Linked DNA regions of Homo sapiens: region 2 is linked to region 1. The links come from fine-mapping of genetic effects on gene expression. A gene starts in region 1. The other region holds a variant in brackets. All regions are shown on one strand. Distances are from middle to middle.

What was found. PIP is the estimated chance that this variant, and not a neighbour inherited with it, causes the effect. A credible set is the group of variants that fine-mapping cannot tell apart.
Region 2: its variant is the best candidate, but not a certain one, in a credible set for the expression of ITIH2 in cerebellum (GTEx, PIP 0.81).

Annotation. Positions count from the first base shown.
Region 1 is chr10:7,699,399-7,707,398 of GRCh38, forward strand. ITIH2 (inter-alpha-trypsin inhibitor heavy chain 2) reads left to right here and starts at 3,918. Exons shown (of 21, transcript NM_002216.3): 1 at 3,918-4,120; 2 at 5,710-5,784; 3 at 7,803-7,835. The coding sequence starts at 4,037.
Region 2 is chr10:7,770,796-7,782,628 of GRCh38, forward strand. KIN (Kin17 DNA and RNA binding protein) reads right to left here. Exons shown (of 13, transcript NM_012311.4): 3 at 9,469-9,512; 4 at 9,261-9,383; 5 at 8,043-8,224; 6 at 4,956-5,004; 7 at 4,036-4,096. Among named protein-coding and RNA genes, the nearest start is that of KIN, 11 kb to the right of the region's middle. The variant C/T (reference allele first, on the strand shown) is at 5,751.

The DNA of each region.
Region 1 (8,000 bases):
CACTCTTCGCCCTGTTTACACCTTGGAGGGAGCCACAATTACTCATATGAAGGTGCTTCCCAGCCTGTACCTGAAATACCAGCACCAGATCTTAGTGTGATCGTGAGACCACTTCCAGATGAGACCCCTTCCTCGCCAGAAAACACCCAGACACCCTGGGAGGAACAGCAAAAGCTGCTACACTGGAATTGACCTATCGTGGCTGGTCACATGTCTACTCTACTCTCGATTTCTCTACTCTGGCAATGGATTTGAATTTGAACTTCAGAGGTAAGGAACACAGAATAGGAAAGAACTGAAATGGCTCAACAGCAAAGCCACGTTTCCATGGCTTAAGAACCAATGAGAGAATCCGTTCCATGCTCTCTAACTTCCCATTTTTGGCTTGTGATACTGCTATTCAGTTTCAAATATTTTTCTTTTGAAACATCTTTATGTTCTGGCCTCAAATGATACAAACCCACACCTGGCCAGGCACAGTGGCTCACATGTAATCCCAACACTTTGGGAGGCCAACATGGGTGGATTACTTGAGTCCAGGAGTTCAAGACCAGCCTGGGCAACATGGTGAAACCTCACATCTACAAAATATACGCTCACACAAAAATCAGCTGGGTGTGGTGGTGTGCACCTGTAGTTTCAGCTACTCAGGAGGCTGAGATGGGAGGATTGCTTGAGCCCAGGAGGTTGAGGCTGCAGTAAGCCATGATTGCATCACTGCACTCCAGCCTGGGTGATAGAGTGAGACCCTGTCTCCATTAAAAAACTAAAACAGGCTGGGCGCGGTGGCTCAAGCCTGTAATCCCAGCACTTTGGGAGGCTGAGGCGGGTGGACCACGAGGTCAGGAGATCGAAACCATCCTGGCTAACATGGTGAAACCCCGTCTCTACTAAAAATACAAAAAATTATTCAGGCGTGGTGGCAGGCACCTGTAGTCCCAGCTGCTCGGGAAGCTGAGGCAGGAGAATGGCGTGAACCCGGGAGGCGGAGCTTGCAGTGAGCCAAGATTGTGCCACTGCACTCCAGCCTGGGCAAGAGAGAGACTCCATCTAAAAAAAAAAAAAAAAACAGAACCAAAAAAAACACACCTCTGCATTACAGAGGACAAAAAAATGTAGCAGAGTAATCAAATATCATCTTTGGAAATTCAAACAGACAATCCTTGAAGAAGATGTAACAAAATGTCTTCACAATCAGAGGAAGCCATCACAGCTCAACTATGTGTAGAAAACAGACCTGCTCCATGTTATGTGCAACCTGACCCACCAAACAAGCAGGTCAGGGTCAAATATAGCTATTTTTCTGGTGAATTCATCCAGCTTTGACTTTGGACTTTTACAAACATGCTCTTTCACAATGACAGGGCTGGAGCTGAATGCTATAAATGTGAGGCAGCTATTGTTATACTGTCAGCTAAACCACAATGACTTACACTCAGTGATGAATCTCAAGTTTGTTGATATTTCCCAGAGTTCCCAATGAGTACTAAATGTTATCTCTTTGTTCAAACATTATGAAATATTGTGATTTTTTTTCTTGTAGATTTCCTACTGATTTTCACATACGTGAAAGTGAATATTCTTGTGGCATTTATGGTAGTGATTTCCATCCTAGAAATCAGTGGATATATTCAATTCACCACGTCACAGCTGCCCAGGCATGATGGGAGGGGTTGGCAGTGGGGTGGGGAGTGCAAGGGGAAAGGGTCTCAGGTTCAAGACTCAGTAGCCTGAATACACAGCCTACGCGGTCGTGCTTCTGAACATTGAGAGAGAGAGCAAATGTTGTTTTGTTTTGTTTTGTTTTCAAGAATTTGGGATCAGGCTGAGCACAGTGGCTCACGCCTATAATCCCAACACTTTGGGAGGCTGAGGCAGGTGGATTACTCGAGGTCAGGAGTTTGAGACCAGCCTGACCAATATGGTGAAACCCCATCTTTACTTTAAAAAAAATAATACAAAGTTAGTTGTGGTGGTGCACGCCCGTAATTCCAGCTACTTGGGAGGTTCAGGCAGGGGAATCGCGTGAACCTGGGAGGTGGAGGTTGCAGTAAGCCAAGATCATGCCATTGCGCTTGAGTCTGAGCCACAGAGTGACGCTCCCTCTCAAAAAAAAAAAAAAAAAAGGACTTTGGGATCTGAAGACAGAGTATCAGCATGGAAAAAAGTCCAGCCTGCTTTTGGTTTGGTTTATTCTGAGATAATTCTGAATATCAGATTAAAATAATCAGAAAGGAAATGATCAATGGAAGGAGGTATGATTTTGAAAGTCACTGCTGTTTTTGGGAGAACATGCCATTGGGTTTTTTATTATTTATTTATTTTTTTCTTTTGAGACCAAGTCTTGCCCTGTTGCCCAGGTGGAATGCAGTGGCGTGATCTCAGCTCACTCTAACCTCCGCCTCCCCAGTTCAAGCAATTCTCATGCCTCAGCCTCCCAAGTAGCTGGGATTACAGGCGCATGCCACCACACCTGGCTAATTTTTGTATTTTTAGTAGAGACGGGGTTGCACTATGTTGGCCAGGCTGGTCTCAAACTCCTGACCTCAGGTCATCCACCCGCCTCAGTCTCCCAAAGTGCTGGGATTACAAGTGTGAGCCACCGCGCCCAGCTGCCATTGGGTCTTAATTCTCCAGAAACAGTATCTCAGTCAAGAATGCAAAGCTGTGGCAGGATTTTTCCATGAGGGGTCCACTGAGGCACTCACTGGCCAAGGTGGGCGCTCAACTAGTCCAACCTAGGCAAGGGAGGGGAGAATCTGTTTTCTCCCTTCCATTATTTCAGAAGTTATGTTTCTCCAGCAGACACACGGCTGTGCAATTTCGAAGACTGAGGGGAAACTAGGGAGGAAAATGCAGAAAACTCTCTGTTGCATGCCCTGTGAATTGGGCTTTAAATGTAGCAAGGAGCTCCAGGATCCCAGAAGTTGGCCTGGGGTGCTTGGTCCTGAGGATAAGACAACCTCCCTTGTATTGTAATTCTGCCCACAGCTGGAGCTTCCTATTTCAGTGTTGCATCCAAGAAGTTACATTTCCTGTTTGTTGCAAGAAAAATAGAATCTGACCAGGATGGAGGCTAGGCATGGGGGCTCACATCTGGAATCCCAGCAGTTTCGGAGGCTGAGGCAAGCAGATAGCTTGAGCCCAGGTGTTCAAGACCAGGATGAGCAACATGATGAAATCCCATCTCTACAAAAAATAGCCAGGCAGTGTAGTGCACACCTGTAGTCCAGCTACTCTGGAGGCTGAGGTGGGCAGATTGCTTGAGCCGGGGGAAGTTGAGGCTGCAATGAGCTTTGATCTCACCACTGCACTCCAATTCTGAGACTGGGGAGTATTGATTTGCCACTGACCTGAGCCCGGCTGATAGGGGCAGCAGGACAGACACTGTTACCTTAATCAAAGACATTCACGAAGCATTCTCACTGAAGATCTGCCCTAGTATCCTGCACAGCCACTTGCCTGGGTCTTTATAGGTAACAGGTAGACAGTCATCAAAGAGATAGGGGAAAACATGCACAATGAATTCTTTGCTCAGAAAAACCCTTCTGTGTCTTCTCCCACTTTTTCTAAATTTTTCCTGCTTTCATTTAGATCAAAGGATTTTGTTTCTTGGAATAGTTCTGCACTTGGTCCTTTAGAAAGGATGACAATTATCTGTAGGTCTCTCTGATTTTAAGATCAATAGAAATCAGCAAAAGCCAAAAAATAAAAAATAAAAATAAAATAAAAGCACACAAGCACATTCAAGCACATCCATCTGCCCCTGACTTGTCCTCACAGTAAGCAACTGCTTCTGACTTTGCTGTTTGAATAACCTCTGGGTGTTCGATCCACCCACACAGCTCAAGTTTGAGCTCCAGAACAAATATTTGTCCCAATTTTGAACAAAGTTAGAGAGTTTTTTCTTCTTTTTTCTTCTTTCTTAAAGCGAACTGTACTCCTCTGCTGTTCCTTTGAACTTGGTTCAGTAGGAAGAAGTGATATCCTCCCCAGACCATCTGCTTTGGGGAGCTTGGCAAAACTGTCCAGCAAAATGAAAAGACTCACGTGCTTTTTCATCTGCTTCTTTCTTTCTGAAGTATCAGGCTTCGAAATCCCCATAAATGGACTTTCTGAAGTAAGTACTTACAGATCACTCCTTGCTGTTGGCTTGTTCATGAGCTCAGTAAATCATCTATTGGAATCGCTATTCAATGGCCTTATTCTGTGTGTAATGGAAACTTAAGATAAAATTCATCTGAGTGCAAGTGTTTACTGTTATAATTACTGGAATGTATATTTACCTTTTAAAGCATTAACAGGTTTTGCATGAAAATTAAGTCAAGATCAATGGGCAGGCATCAGAGCGTAGCATTTATGGAGCAGAGCTGCTCACTCCTCACCTAAAAAATTGGGGGTAAGAATAGACCTAACCCAATGGTTTGCTTTGAGAATTAAATGACACAGTGTAAACTCTTCTAGCAGAGCGCCTGGACTAGTAAGTGCTTAATAATTACTAGCTGTTATGATGATGAAGAAATATTATCACTCTTTTACTAAGAGTATAAGAAAAGTCATTATCAAAGCACACTGTTTTTCATATCTAAGTGAACAGTGATATTTGTAATAAGAGCACTTTAAGTATTCCTATTAAAGCGGAAGATAGCAGGCAGGGTGGAAAAGTACAAGAATAATTCCCATGGAGTACAGGTCTCCACTTTTGTCCCTTAGCCATCTCCAATGTAAGGAAAGTCTTGGACTGAAAGTCTGTTTCTGAAAGTCATACAAGAGCTATTTTTATGCCAGAAAAGCGAAGCATGTTATGGGAACATCCCAGCAAATGCAAAGGCTTATAATACTTGCAGAGTGGATTACCTATAAAAATGCCAGAGAATATGACGGCATATTTACAAAGGGAAAATATCACTCTGTCTGCTTTGAAACTATCATATTTTCCAACACTTAAAAGCCACCAGAGTGTGTTAGAAATCTCAAATTGAAGCCAAGACATCCAAATGTGTTTGTGCTTTTTCAGTCATTTCTAACTGGCATTTCCTTTTAGAAAATACCTACATTTTTAACTTGGGGAGATGTATGGTTCATGTCTGTCCAGTCAGACACTGCAAATGCCTCCAGGGTCTACCCAGATACTTCCCCAGACACCCACCTAATCACTGGGTTGTTTTGATCTCTGTCTTACCACCTGCTGGCAAACTCAAAAATGAATTCCCATGTCCAACAAATGCGAAGGTGTTGTTACCCTCCATTTGGACACCTCTGAGACGTAACCAGCAAATAGAAATATACTAAAGAAATCATTTTATACAAAATTGTGATTGCCCAGAGGTAGAGGAAAGAATATAAAATAATGAATACCAACAGCTATCTCTTTGGCTCTAGATCTTTTGGAAATCATCATTCTCAGCAAAGTAACACAAGAAGGGAAAACCCAACACCGCATGTTCTCACTCATAAGTGGGAGTCGAACAACGAGAACACATGGACACAGGAAGGGGAACATCACACACTGGGGCCTGTCAGGGGGTGGGGGGCTAGGGGAGGGATAGCATTAGGAGAAATACCTGACGTAAATGATGAGTTAATGGGTGTAGCAAACCAACATGGCACATGTATACCTATGTAACAAATCTGCACGTTGTGCACATGTACCCCAGAACTTACAGTATAATTAAAAAAAAAAAAGTTAAAATCCTAATTTTTTTTAAGTTTGTAGACTATGAAGATCTTGTGGAACTGGCCCCAGGCAAATTTCAATTGGTGGCAGAGAACCGGAGATATCAGGTATAGTAAGGTTTACTCCCAAAAGGGGGAAAAAAAGTGAAAGAGATTATGGCAGAAGAAGACAAGTGTTAAGATGCCTTCTGCTAGATTTTCTTAAGAGTTTGTTTTTTAGCACAGAAGAGTCCAGACTTCTTACACCTTGGTGGAAGAGATCACCCAGGTGAAATAAAAAGAGAAACTCACACAACTGCTCAGCAGCCTTCACACCATAATGCTCAATTTAGTCCCTTAAAGAGTACACGACTCAGCACAGTGGCTCCCACTTATAATCACAGCATTTTCAGAGGCCAAGGAGGGAGGATCACTTGAGGCCAGGAGTTCCAGATCAGCCTGGGTAACATAGTGAGGCTCTACCTCTGCCACCCAGCTAATATATATATTAGCTGGCATGCACCTGTAATCCCAGCTATTTGAGAAGCTGAGATGGAGGATCACTTGAACCCAAGAGTTCGAGGCTGCAGTGAGCTATGATTGCACCAGCCTGGGCAACAGAGGGAGACGCTGTCCCCACTCCATTTAAAAAAAAAAAAAAAAAAAAGAATACATGGCTATGTGTTTTCTTCAAAACTTAAGATTCCGAAATTATTTCCTGCCTTGCCGGAAGGATTTCCTGTTAGGAAGACTTTTCTTATTTTAGCGATGACAGACACTCCCCCTTGCAGCCTCACAATCTCCTTCCTCTGGTCACTCTGAGGGCACCTGAGAAGGAGAATTGGCCACATTGGAAGTTGCAATCCTGGCGGCCACCAGCAGCAGTATAGACAAAACCCTCTAATTAAGGGGGTGAGTTTTCCAGAACACCAGGAAGGGCTTGGCTTCTTCCCCACGGAGCCCACATGCTGAGAGAGGAGGTATTTACGGAAGCAGCAACCCTAAGCTGATCAATGTCTTATTTTGTATGGGTGTGAATTTTTTACTTTCTGAAAATCCAGGATTTTTTTTTGTAGACTAATAATATTAAAATCCAATAAGCAAGACTTCATGTCACAATTTATTTAGCCACAAGAGAGAAAAATTTGTCATTGAGCATTGCATTCAAGAAGTCTACAAGAAGAGGTCAACCATTGACCTCACCATGTCACACAGCACAGAACCTCAGTTCACCCCGAATCAGGCAAGCTGAGCTTATATCCAACACCCGACTTCTTGGATCTATTATTAACAGCTCACCAAACATTACATGTTCACCCACCACCCTTAAGCCATTCACTTTCAAAGGCAAGGGAATCGCCTTTGTTCATTTCCTCAGGACAGTCAAGTGTATGGATAATCTCCTAGCATGGTGGTTAAAAGCATAGAATTTTCTAGGTGCCAGTCACTGTGTTTGCCTCAGGGGTTACACTGTGGAGGAAATACATGAAAATCCCTGCTTTTATGTAGCTTAGTTTAAAGGAAGAGACAGACTTTAGTCAAATAATCCCTCAAATAGAATGAATCATTATGAAACAAGGTGAGCACTCTGCAGGAAGGAATATGCTGCTGCAAAAACACTTAGTAAAGGAAACCGACCTAGTCTTGGGGTGTTAGAGATTTTCACTGGAGGAATTCTGCTGGAGCTGAGATCTGAAGGGTGAGTAGGAGTTCTCCATATGGGGGTTGAGGAACCTAGCAGGGGCACTGCAAACAGTGGGAACAGCATGCCCACAGCCTCATGGCCGAATGGAGGATCAAAGTCTCCATTCAACTGAGTAAAAAATAGAGCAAATAGCATCAAGGGGATATACGCTACCCAGGATGCATTTGGTTGAATATTTTTATTTAAAAATTACTTGTTCTAGCATTATATCCAAGAATGACACACACGCCACCAGAACTGGTTGAGAAACTTATTGAGAAACTCACCAGTGGGAAAATAGTTTTCAAGAATATTCAATATTTATGTCTCAACTCCAGTGAATGAATAACAGCTCAGTATTGAAGAAAAATAAAATTTCTTTTTTGACTGAGAAAACGGTTTTGGCTCTCAAGGTAATAAGTGACATACAGTTGAAGAATGATTGTCTAACTTCCTTTCACAGAGAAGCCTTCCAGGAGAATCGGAAGAAATGATGGTAAGTTGACTTGATGTTGTTACAGATTGAATGATTTTCCTGTTAATAATTACCAGGAAATCAATCTGGGTGTCTCTTTTTTCTTCATCACCGAGTATTTACCTGACTTTCGAAATACTGCCTTGCCCAACTGTTTGCAAGTGTTTCTAAAATTCAGCATTGAAG
Region 2 (11,833 bases), 73 kb after region 1:
AGATTTATTATTTTCCTTTATTTGGACTTTAAAAAGTGCATTTAAAGGTAGCCTTAGATTGATGAACTGCTGGGTTACTTTAAGCTTGAAGTCAACTAAAACCCCTACTTCTTTTCTCTATGGAGAATTGTAGGTAAGGACTCTGTCACTCTGTTTTTATGGGGGTTGTTTTTCTTTACCTAACTGTCAGGCTTTCCATTTACCTTTGTAAAATTTTACTCACTGGGTTTTGACCTGTAATTCAACCCACTGAACATATATTTAAACTCTGGTTCTATTACTGAATGCATTGCCCAGGGTGTGACAGCTATAAATAATGGACATGGGTTTTGAACAGGCCAAATCCACGTAAGATAAGCTCCTCAACTTGCTACTTAAATGTTCTTTAGATTTAGGTGTACTTTGAACTAGGGATCCAGGGATAATTCAGATCATAATCAACTACAATATGTCTACAAAATAGGCACTAATAACCCTAGCAAAAGAGGAGTTAGGATTAAGCAGTTATTTTTGGCTTGAGGGATCACCACTTCCTCGTCTCATGTTCACAAACCACCTACTTCCTATCATAATCTGTTGGAAATGCTTATTAATCTATTGTTTTCTAAAGACTTTTCTCCACTTAAAAAAATATATTTGCTTATTTTTCTGCCTTCTGACTCCTCTACCAATCTCCATGATACCTCAGAGGTTCTCAACAGTGAGTCCCCAAATATTAATACATCTATAAATTATTTCAGTATTTTGGTATTAATCTCAGCTTAGACACTTGAGTTTATTTAAGGCTATTATTTACTCTTCTTAAAACTCAACTGGGCCGGGCGCGGTGGCTCATGCCTGAAATCCCGGCACTTTGGGAGGCTGAGACAGGTGGATCATTTGAGGTCAGGAGTTTGAGACCAGCCTGACCAACATGGTGAAATCCAGTTTCTCCTAAAAATACAAAAAAATTAGCCGAGCATGGTGGTGCATGCCTGTACTCCCAGCTACTTGGGAGGCCGAGGCAGGAGAATCGCTTGAACTTGGAAGGCAGAGGTTGTGGTGAGCCGAGGTCATGCCACTGCGCTCCAGCCTGGGCAACAAGAGCGAAATTCCGTCTCAAAAAAAAAAAAAAAAGAAAGAAAGAAAAAGAAAATTTACTCAGCATCATTAAATGCTTAGAATGTGACAATAATGGGGAAAAAGATGATCAGAAGAGCCCAGCAAGATCTCAGGGTGATGTAAAGGGCATTCCAGGAAGGGGAGCAGCAGATGTAAAGGCAAGAAAGGGCGAGACCCTAGGCTCATTTAGGAAAGCACAAATCAATGAGCACAGCTGAGAGCAAACGGCAGGAGACATACAGGATCACAAAAGTCACTTAATAGTATGTAAAAAAATTCGAGGTCATCTTAGAGATGCTGAAACCAAGAGATGTTAATAAATGAGTGACACGGTAAGAGCTGAAGTTTAGAAAGGTCCTTTTGCTGGCAATATCAAGATTCTGTTAGAAGGGTGAGAGACTGAGACAGGGGTAAGGCAGAGTTAAAATAAAATCAAGGCAAGATATGAATATGAGCAGAATGAAAATGGAAAGTAAGGTTCCTTGAACAGCCCTCATTTTTGCTTTCAGTAACTAGAGTGAATTCTAGCCTTTCTCAAAGGAGATAAAGAAGCCCAAAGGAGAAATGGAGATGAAAATCAAGTAAACTGTTTCAAGCAATAAGGGGGCTCATTTTTGTGCCTCAACATAGCCTAAAATGTCCACTTTGATATCCACATCATTTAGTTTTTCTAGGTTTTAGATATATAAGAGATATAAATGCACAGGAGAATGAATCCCAAACTATATTATGTACCATAATTTCAGAGAAAAAACATTTTAGATGTCTTTCAATTGTATTACCCATGACACTACATTCTTATACAAATATTGTTCCTTATTCATGGACTCGGGTCACAACATATTAACATAGATAACTTATCAAATAAATTATCAAAATTGGTCAAATAAAACTAATATTTTTGCTAATATCAAGGTTTGGCATAGGGGTACAGCAGGCTGTATAGACCCCCAAAAATGTCAGGTCCTTATCCCTGAAACCTATCAATGTTACATTATCTAAGAAAAGAGTCTTTGCAAATGAGAGTAAGTTAAAGATCTTGAGATGAGGAGCTTGGCCTGGATTATCAAGGTGGACCCTAACTACAATCATCCCTTTTCTTGTAAGAGCAAGGTGGAGGGAGATTTGACACCTGGAGGAAAAGGTGATGTGAGGATGGGGCAAAGAGACATTTGAAGATGCTCGTCTTAAATACTGGAGAGATGCAACCATGAGCCAAGTAACGCCTGCGGCCAACAGAGCTGGAAAAGGCAAGGGACAGATTCTTCCCCGGAGCTCAGATTCTTCCCCAGAGCACAGCCAGCAGGCTCCTTGATTTCAAGCCAGTGATACTGATTCAGAATCTGGCCTCTAGAATATGACCTCAACATATTTCTGTTGTTTTAAGCCACCCAGTTTGTGGTAATCTGTTACAGCGACCATAGAAAACTAATACAAGGGAGGTCAATTGGGGAACACTGGAACCAATTTTAACATCCATCTACATCTAGGAATAACACATACTTCAAAAGAACAGACAGAAATGCATAAAGTTCTAAAAGTATAAGGCATGTGTGTTATATTTGAGCCGATCTTCCAGGTCATATCATGCCAATGTTAGACAATTCTTCTGGAATGTACCCAGATGTAGAACCCAAATAACCAACTTCTTGATGATATCTAATGTAGGTGTTAATTTTGAAACATTATTTTGATCAAAGTTAAGACATCTGGCAAATCATTTTAAAGTTGATCTATATTGCTGATTCAGCCTACCTATCTCCTTCCATACTCCTAGCCACTTATTCAATAGTGTAAATAAACAATGACCTACAAACAAACCCGAAAAACTTAGATCTTAAAAAAACAACATGTAAAGTACTAAGTAAAATAGAAAATATCATCTGGCTTAAAAGCAAATTCCAGTAGATACTGGTACTTGACTCTCTTGTCTTACTCATCTTTTTTAACCTCCATAACAAAACTGAATGTACTGCATGTCAGAAATAGTGAATAAAGATTTGGTGAAAGAATACATAAAAATTGCAAGAGAAGATAATGTAGAAAGTAGGTAGAACTACCTGACCACATGCTATGCCAGGTTTTGGCAAACGACAGCCTAAGGGCCAAATGCCAGCTGCCACCGGCTTTTGTAAATAAATGTACTGGAACCCAGCCATGCTCAGTTCCTTCCTGCACTGTCCATGGCTGCCTTCTCACTACAACAGCAGAGTTCAGTTATTGTGACAAAGACATCTGGCCGAAAAGCCTAAAATATTTACTATGTGGCTCTTTACAGAAAAAGTTTGCTGACCCCTGCCCTGTGCTAGACTACCTAGAAGGGCGGGCAATGACTACTGAGTGTTTCCTGGTGTATTTACACTGTACTGGGGACGAAGGAGAGAGGTTGATAATCTCTATTCTCAGAAAACTCACAATGCAGCAAGTAAAAGAAAAATGCAGATCCAGCTAACATTTAAACTGTGACAAGTGGGCTAAGACAGGAAAAGAAACAGTTTTATATAGCGAATAAGGAACCGTTAAATGGAGAAGGATTCATGGAGAAGCAAAAGTTTATTGATGTGAAACATATAATCAAAATGAGGCTTTCCTCAAAAAACACAATCATCTCATAACAGGCAAATAGGAAAAGAACAGTTGCTAGCTGGGCACAGTAGGGCGTGCCTGTAATCCCAGCTATTGATACCTGGGAGGCTGAGGCAGGAAGATCACCTTGAGCCCAGGAGTTCGAGGCCAGCCTGGGCAACATAGCAAGACCCCATCTCTTAAAAAAAAAAAAAGAACAATTGCTAAAAAAACAACGCAACCAATAAAAACCAAAAACAGGTGAAAACTACAACTAGAAAAAAATGATTCACAATACTTTAAAATACAGTAACCAATATTTCACAAAAATCCTAATGTTTTAAGATATCCGTGAATGATGCAGCTCACCTTGACTTGGAAGATGTTGCTCCGGATGAGCTACATGCTCCTTTACTCAAATTAAACGTGACTAGAAGAAAAAAATGTTATTCCATACATACATTTCAAGAAAATCATAATAAAACTTCTCAGATAAGATACTACAAAGTGTTCACAGAGGAACTCCAGGACATTTTCAATAAACGAGAGCTAAAATGTTCCTATACGGAGACCACACATTCCTGTAAAACGTCCCACACTGAAAGCCATAGAACAGGAGGAACTTGCACACCGTGTCACCGTGGCAGACCACACCGGCGCTTCCCTGCTCTATCCCCATTTCCCCTGGGGAACAGTACTCCAATTCTGTTTAGGTCTCCACGCCTCTTGCCTGTGGCTCAGGGGACATAACACCATTTTCATCTCTGGGGTGAATTCTGATTGTCTAATCCAATCAACATAATCCCAGTGACTGCTTTTTGAGTGGACATGTGACACAGTTCTGGCCAATGACATTTGAAAGGAAATCTATTGAAGGGAGGAGTGTCTTCTTGGAAAAGTATCCTTGCTCTTAACAAGATTCTAGAAGAGCATCCAGAGATGCTCTCTGCCATCCTCACGACAATGCAGAATCTGCATGTGACGGCTGGAGTGTTGGCAGCTACCCTGTGTCTAGATGGCATGCAGAACCACCTTACCTCTGGGATTCTTATTATGGCAAGATATTTCCTTATTGTTTAAGTTAATTGTAGTCAGTTTTGTTACTTGTGGCTTCAGCTATCCTATCCAATCAATTCATTAGTATTACCTTTTCATTAAATTAATAAGAACAATGTAACTCAGACACATTCGATGTCTTATTCTCAGATATGTTGACAAGTTGCATTTTTAACAAAGCCAATATAAAAGCATCTATGTTTAAAAAAAGAAAAAATAAAAAATAAAACTACCTTTCTCTTCATCATTTTCTCTGCTTAATTCCGTAAAAGTAGGGACCTCCTAAAAAAAAGAAAGTTTTAAGGTTTTGGTGTACATTGCACTTACTATCACCATTCAATAGGCCTAAATTATGACTTGCTACCTGTGTTCCCAGGCAGCTCTAATACGCAAGTGATTAAGATCCTAATTAAGAAATTACATGCTTTCGGCCAGGCGCGGTGGCTCACACCTGTAATCCCAGCACTTTGGGAGGCCGAGGCGGGCAGATCATGAGGTCAGTAGTTCGAGACCAGTCTGGCCAACACAGTGAAACCCTGTCTCTGCTAAAAATACACAAAAAATTAGCCGAGCATGGTGGTATGCACCTGTAATCCCAGCTACTCAGGAGGCTGAGGCAGGAGAATCACGTGAACCCGGGAGGCAGAGGTTGCAGTGAGCCAAGATCATGCCACTGCACTCCAGCCTGGGTGACAGAACGAGACTCCATCTCAAAAAAAAAAAAAAGAAATTACATATTTTGGCCCAGTATGGTGGCTCATGCCTGTAATCCTAGCACTTTGCGAGGCCAAGGCAGGTGGATCACCTGAGGTCAGGCATTCGAGATGAGCCTGGCCAACGTGGTGAAACCCTGTCTCTACTAAAAATACAAAAATTTAGCCGGGTGTGATGGCGGGCGCCTGTAATGCCAGCTACTCAGGAGGCTGAGCCAGGAGAATCGTCTGAATCCAGGGGGTGAGTGCTGCAGTGAGCGGAGATCGTGCCACTTCACTCCAGGCTGGGTGAAAGAGCGAGACGAGCCTGGCCAA[C/T]TTGGTGAAACCCCGTCTCTACTAAAAATACAAAAATTAGCCCGGCATGGTGGCGGGCGCCTGTAATCCCAGCTACTTGGGAGGCTGAGACAGGAGAATTGCTTGAACCTGGGAGGCGGAGGTTGCAGTGAGCCGAGATCATGCCACTGCCCTCCCCAGCCTGGGTGACAGAGCAAGACTCTGTCTCAAAAAAAAAAAAAAAGAAAAGAAATTACATGCTTTGGCTGGGCATGGTGGCTCATGCCTATAATCCCAGCACTTTGGGAGGTCGAGCTCAGGCAGGAGGAATGCTTGAGGCCAGGAGTTCGAGACCAGCTTGGACAACATTGCAAGAGCCCCCCATCTCTATTAAAAAAAAAAAAAATTAGCCAGGCATTGTGGTGCACACCTATAGTCCCAGCTACTCATATGAGGCAAGAGGTTCACTTGAGCACCAGAGGTCAAGGGTGCAGTGAGCTGTAATCATGCCACTGCATTCTAGCCTGGTGACAGAGAGAGACAGTCTCTCAAAAAAAAAAAAAAAAAAAAAAAATAGAACTTACATGCTTTGCAAATATTATCCAATTGAGAATTATTCTAAATACCAAAAAGCAGCTTTTCTATGCCAAACTGCAGAAGTTTACCTATATTTTTATTTCTATTACAACTTAAACAGGAAGTAACAAAAATATAAGGCAATAAACTTTAGGAAAAGCAAAAGCTTTTTTTTTTTTTAAGTCTGTTCAAGAACAGACTAAACTAATGAATAATCAATCGTGGTATACTGGAACAATGGTTATGTCTGGGAGATGGGGTATTAATTGGCAACGAGCATGAGGAAACCCTCTGGGATACTAGAAAAGTTCTATATCTTTATCTGGGTGGTGGTTCCACAGGTTTTCTGTCACTCTTTCTACACACGTATATTTGTAAAAGTTCAGTGAACTGTACACCTAAGATTAATGCACCTCATACACTTTAATCAATGTATGTTAAAGCTCAATAACCAGTTCAAAAAACACTCAGTTTCACATACACACCAGGCTATATTTGCCTGCTCACACACAAGTGTTAGAATGTAAGCCACAGGAGGCAGGGCGTGGTGGCTCACGCCTGTAATCTCAGCATTTTGGGAGGCCCAGAAGGGCGGATCACCTGAGGTCAGGAGTTTGAGATCAACCTGGCCAACATGGTGAAACCCCGTCTCTACTAAAAATGCAAAAAATTAGCTGGGCATGGTGGCTTGTGCCTGTAGTCCCAGCTACTTGGGAGGCTGAGACACGAGAATCGCTTGAACCCAGGAGGCGGGGGTTGCAGTCAGCTGAAATCGCGCCACTGCACTCCAGCCTGGGCGACAGAGTGAGACTCCGTCCCCCCCCCAAAAAAAAAAAAAATGTAAGCCACAGGAGACAGTTTTCTGTATCTTTTGTTCACTGAGTATTCCCTGTGCCTACAAGAATCCTGGCACAGCGGAGGCGCTTATAAATATATGTTGAAATAAATGCCCCAACCTAGTTATTCTAACACCTCAGCTCCTTCCCTCCCCATTCATCTGGCTTGCACCCACTGATTCTTCAAGACTCCTGGGCACTGGGGTTGTATCCACCCTCAAATACTCTGTCCTCCCCAGGCCAGAGTAAACATTGCTTCTCTATGTTTCCACATGCTGCATTTACCTCCAGTACTGAATTAATTATAATCAGTTGAAATTATCTGTGTATATGTCTTCCCATTAGGTAGCGTCTCTATTTAGATATAAGGAAATTGAGGTTTGGAAATATTATGCAATTATACAAGATTATGAAGTTAGTATGTCAGGAATCAAACCAAGGTTTGTCAATGCCAAAAATGTGCTTTTGACACCAGGCTGGTTCTCCTCTTAGTTCAGGAACAGTGCCCACAGAACTTGATTCAACGCTGAAAAGACACAAGCTGGCTGGGCACGGTGGCTCACGCCTGTAATCCTGTAACTTTGGGAGGCCGAGGCGGCCGGATCACGAGGTCAGGAGTTGGAGACCGGCCTGACCAACATGGTGAAACCCTGTCTCTACTAACAATACAAAAATTATCTGGGCGTGGTGGCGGGCGCCTGTAGTTCCAGGTACTCAGGAGGCTGAGGCAGGAGAACTGCTTGAACCTGGGTGGCAGAGGTTGCAGTGAGCTGAGATTGCGCTACTGCACTCCAGCCTGGGCGGCAGAGCAAGACTCCATCTCCAAAACAACAACAACAACAAAAACAAAAAAGAAAAACCAAGCCATTGTGCTTCTTTAGACCTCTGGACGTTGCTTCTCAGGATGATGTTGCTTACCCACCTGTTCCTTCCCTTCCAGGCCTCTTCTCACTTGCTCTTCAATAAATTTGGCAGTTTTTTCTTCATCATCAAGGTCCTGCTTTTTCTTTTTCTCCAGTTCCAGTTGCCGGCGGATAGTTTCTGGGTCCCTGTCTATGTACTGAATATACCAGCCTTTTGGTGTCTCGTCCACTTTGCACAAGCCTTAAAAAAACAGCCACTGCCATAAATTAGCATACAATCAAAGCAAAACATAAATATGAATGTGTTTCACCTCTGCATATTTATTCATTCAAACACACACAAATCAGGCCGAGCGCAGTGGCTTACACCTGTAATCTCAGCACTTTAGGAGGCCAACACAGGTGGATCACTTGAGGTCAGGAGCTCAAGACCAGCCTGGCCAACATGGTGAATCCCATCTCTACTAAAAATACAAAAATTAGCTGGGCGTGGTGGTGCACACCTGTAATCCCAGCTACTCAGGAGGCTGAGGCAGGAGAATCACTTGAACCCAGGAGGCAGAGGTTGCAGTGAGCCAAGATCCTACCACTGCACTTCAGCCTGGCAACAGAGCGAGACTCAGTCTCAAAAACAAAACAAAACAAAACACCAAATACACTAAAACACATTCAAATACACAAATTCATGCAGCAAATGGGATTTTCCATATTTATATTTAATGAAATTTAGATACTGTATGTGAATTCAACCAACCGTGGGTGAGAAATATTCAAAAAAAGAAAAACGGATGGTTGCATCTGTACTGAACATGCACAGACATTTTTTCCTTCCCATTTTTCCCTAACAATAGAGTATAAAAACTATTTACATTGTATTAAATATTATAAGAAATCTCGAGATGATTTAAAGTATGTGGGAGGATGTATATAGGTTACATGCAAGTGCTACATCATTTTATTTTATATAAGGGACTTGAGTATCTGTGAATTTTGGTTATCAGCAAGGGGTCCTGGACCCAATCCCCCACGGATACTGAGAGACAACTGTATTACCTTGCATAGTATTTATTCAGTTCTATCTAAGTATTTAATGTCCAACAGTTATATGATGTTCTATTAACTTAAGGCAGAAATTATGCTCCCAAAATGGAATCAACTAACACGATGAAAAAGCAAAACACTGACCCAATTTTTTTTCTCTTTTCTTATCCCAAACATCTCATCCTATGAAGATTAGAAGTGGGAAAGAAAAAGCAACTTTAAAATCTCATTCTTACCTTCTCTGCCCAGCCACTTAGTAAAATCAGTCAGAGTTTCCCACTGAGTGGCATTCATGTGGATGTGCTCTCGGTGGCTGATGTATTCGTTGTAGACAATGTTGTTGTGGACCCTTTTAGTGCCTGAGAACAAAATATGACACTGATGATCATCAGAAGATTATGCCATTTATAAAGCTGTTATTTGCACAATATTTAAAATGTTTACCAAAGCGTCTCCTGAGAAGTTCTAGAAAGTCATTTCGGAATTCCCTAATAAAGAAAGAAAGGAAAGCATTAAGGTAATTTCTACAAACATATAGCATCATCTTTTTGAAATTTAAGCAGTAGTACAGTTTTTTGTTTTTGTTTTTTTTGAGACAGAGTCTCGTTCTCGTCACCCAAGCTGGAGTGCAATAGTGTGATCTCAGCTCATTGCAACCTCCACTTCCCAGGTTCAAGTGATTCTCTTGCCTCAGCCTCCCAAGTAGCCAGGATTACAGGGGTCCACCACCACGCCTGGCTAATTTTGTTTCGTATTTTTCGTAGGGATGGGGTTTCACCATGTTGGGCAGGCTGGTCTCAAACTCGTGACCTCAGGTGATCTCCACCTGCCTCAGCCTCCCAAGGTGCTGGGACTACAGGCGTGAGCCACTGCATCTAGCCAGTAGTATAGTTTTAATGTCCAAATGATATGTGAAACATCTACATGAATATGGCTATGAACCTTTAAAAACTGATCAAGGAAAGAACTCCAAAATATTATAGCTTTTAAGGATTAAGTTAAAAGTCAGTTGGGAGTTGAAATTTTTTGTCTTGGTAAAGCAGTCATAGAAACAGTTACCACATACCTTTGGAATGGGTCCTTCATGAAGTCTGTTAGTGCCACTGATGGTGGCATAATGACCCCAGTCTATCTATGACAACAAAACTGCCCTGATTCCACATGAAATTGGCACTTAATATGTCCCTCTGAGCTGGGTACACCGTATTAAGTGCTAGATAAACGTGGGTGAATAAGACATAAATCTTAACCTTCAAGGAGGTTACAATCTAGCATAACCAATCATAACAAAAGTTAAACTGAAGAAGAAGTGTAACAAAATACCATTGAAAGAGTCACAGGAGATGCCCAGAGGTGATTTCATTGTGGTCAGTGAAGGATAAGTAGAACCCTAGAGGTGAACTGCAAGAGAAAGCTATTTCCAGCTGGCACAGAAACATGAAAGCCTCACAGATCTGAGAAATGGCCTAATTTGACTAAAATTTATGGCTGATAAAAATGAGAGTGAGAGTGAGGGTAGAGTAGAATAAGGGAGACGAGGTGGCTGGGAAACCAAAATAAGGTTTGGCTAATTTTTGAAGTACCCCGAATGTCATGCGAAAGAGGCTGAGTTTTGTGCAGTCAATAGAAAAGCATTAAATAATTTTGTTTGGCCTGGGTATGATGGCTCATACCTGTAATCCCAGGACTTTGGGAGATCGAGAGAGGAGGATCACTTGAGCCCAGGAGTTCAAGACCAGCCTGGGCAACAAAGTGAGACCCTGTCTCTACACACACACACACACACACACACAGAATCAAAAAATTAGCCAGGTGTGGTGGTGTGCATCTATGTTCCCAGCTACATGGGAGGCTGAAGCAGGAGGATCGCCTGAGCCCAGGAGGTCAAGGTTGTAGTAAGCCATGACTATGCCACAAAACAAGACCCTGTCAAAAAAAAAAAAAAAAAAAAAAAATGCCTGGCATGTTGGCTCACACCTGTAATCCCAGCACTTTGGGAGGGTGAGGTGGGTGGATCACCTGAGGTCAGGAGTTCAACACCAGCATGGCCAACATGCCTAAACCCTTTCTCTATTAAAAATATAAAAAATTAGCGGAGCGTGGTGGCGCATGCCTGTAATCCCAGCTACTTGGGAGGCCAAGGCAGGAGAATTGCTTGAACCCAGGAGGCAGAGGTTGCAGCGAGCCAAGATGGTGCCACTGCACTCCAGCCTGGGCAACAAGAGCGAAACTCCCGTCTCAATAATAATAACAATAATAAAAATTTATAAACCAATTTTTTTAAAAAACTTGTTTTTATTTCCATGTGTTGATACATCTAACCCACATAAACAGAAGTTCTTGGGGTCTTCAATATTTTTTAAAAGTATAAAGGGGTCCTAGGACCAAAATGTCTAGAAGTTTGGAAAGAAAGAGATGGTAAGAAGCAAAGAAATGTTTATTAATGGTAATGATAAGAACAGCTAATCTGAATTGAATATAGGCACTCTTCTAAGCACTCATAAAGTGTTAATTCATTGACCTTCATATAAACTCTATGAAGGATCAGCAATACTTAGAAGAGGTTGCTATTTTTAGTGCCATTTTTTTTTTTTTTTTAGACAGAGTCTTGCTCTGTCGCCCAGGCTAGAGTGCAATGGTGCAATCTCGGCTCACTGCAACCTCTGCCTCCCCGGTTCAAGCAATTCTCCTGCCTCAGCCTCCTGAGTCGCTGGGATTACAGGTGCCCACCACCATGTCCGGCTAATTTTTGTATTTTTAGTAGAGACGGGGTTTTGTCATCTTGGCCACGCTGGTCTTGAACTCCTGA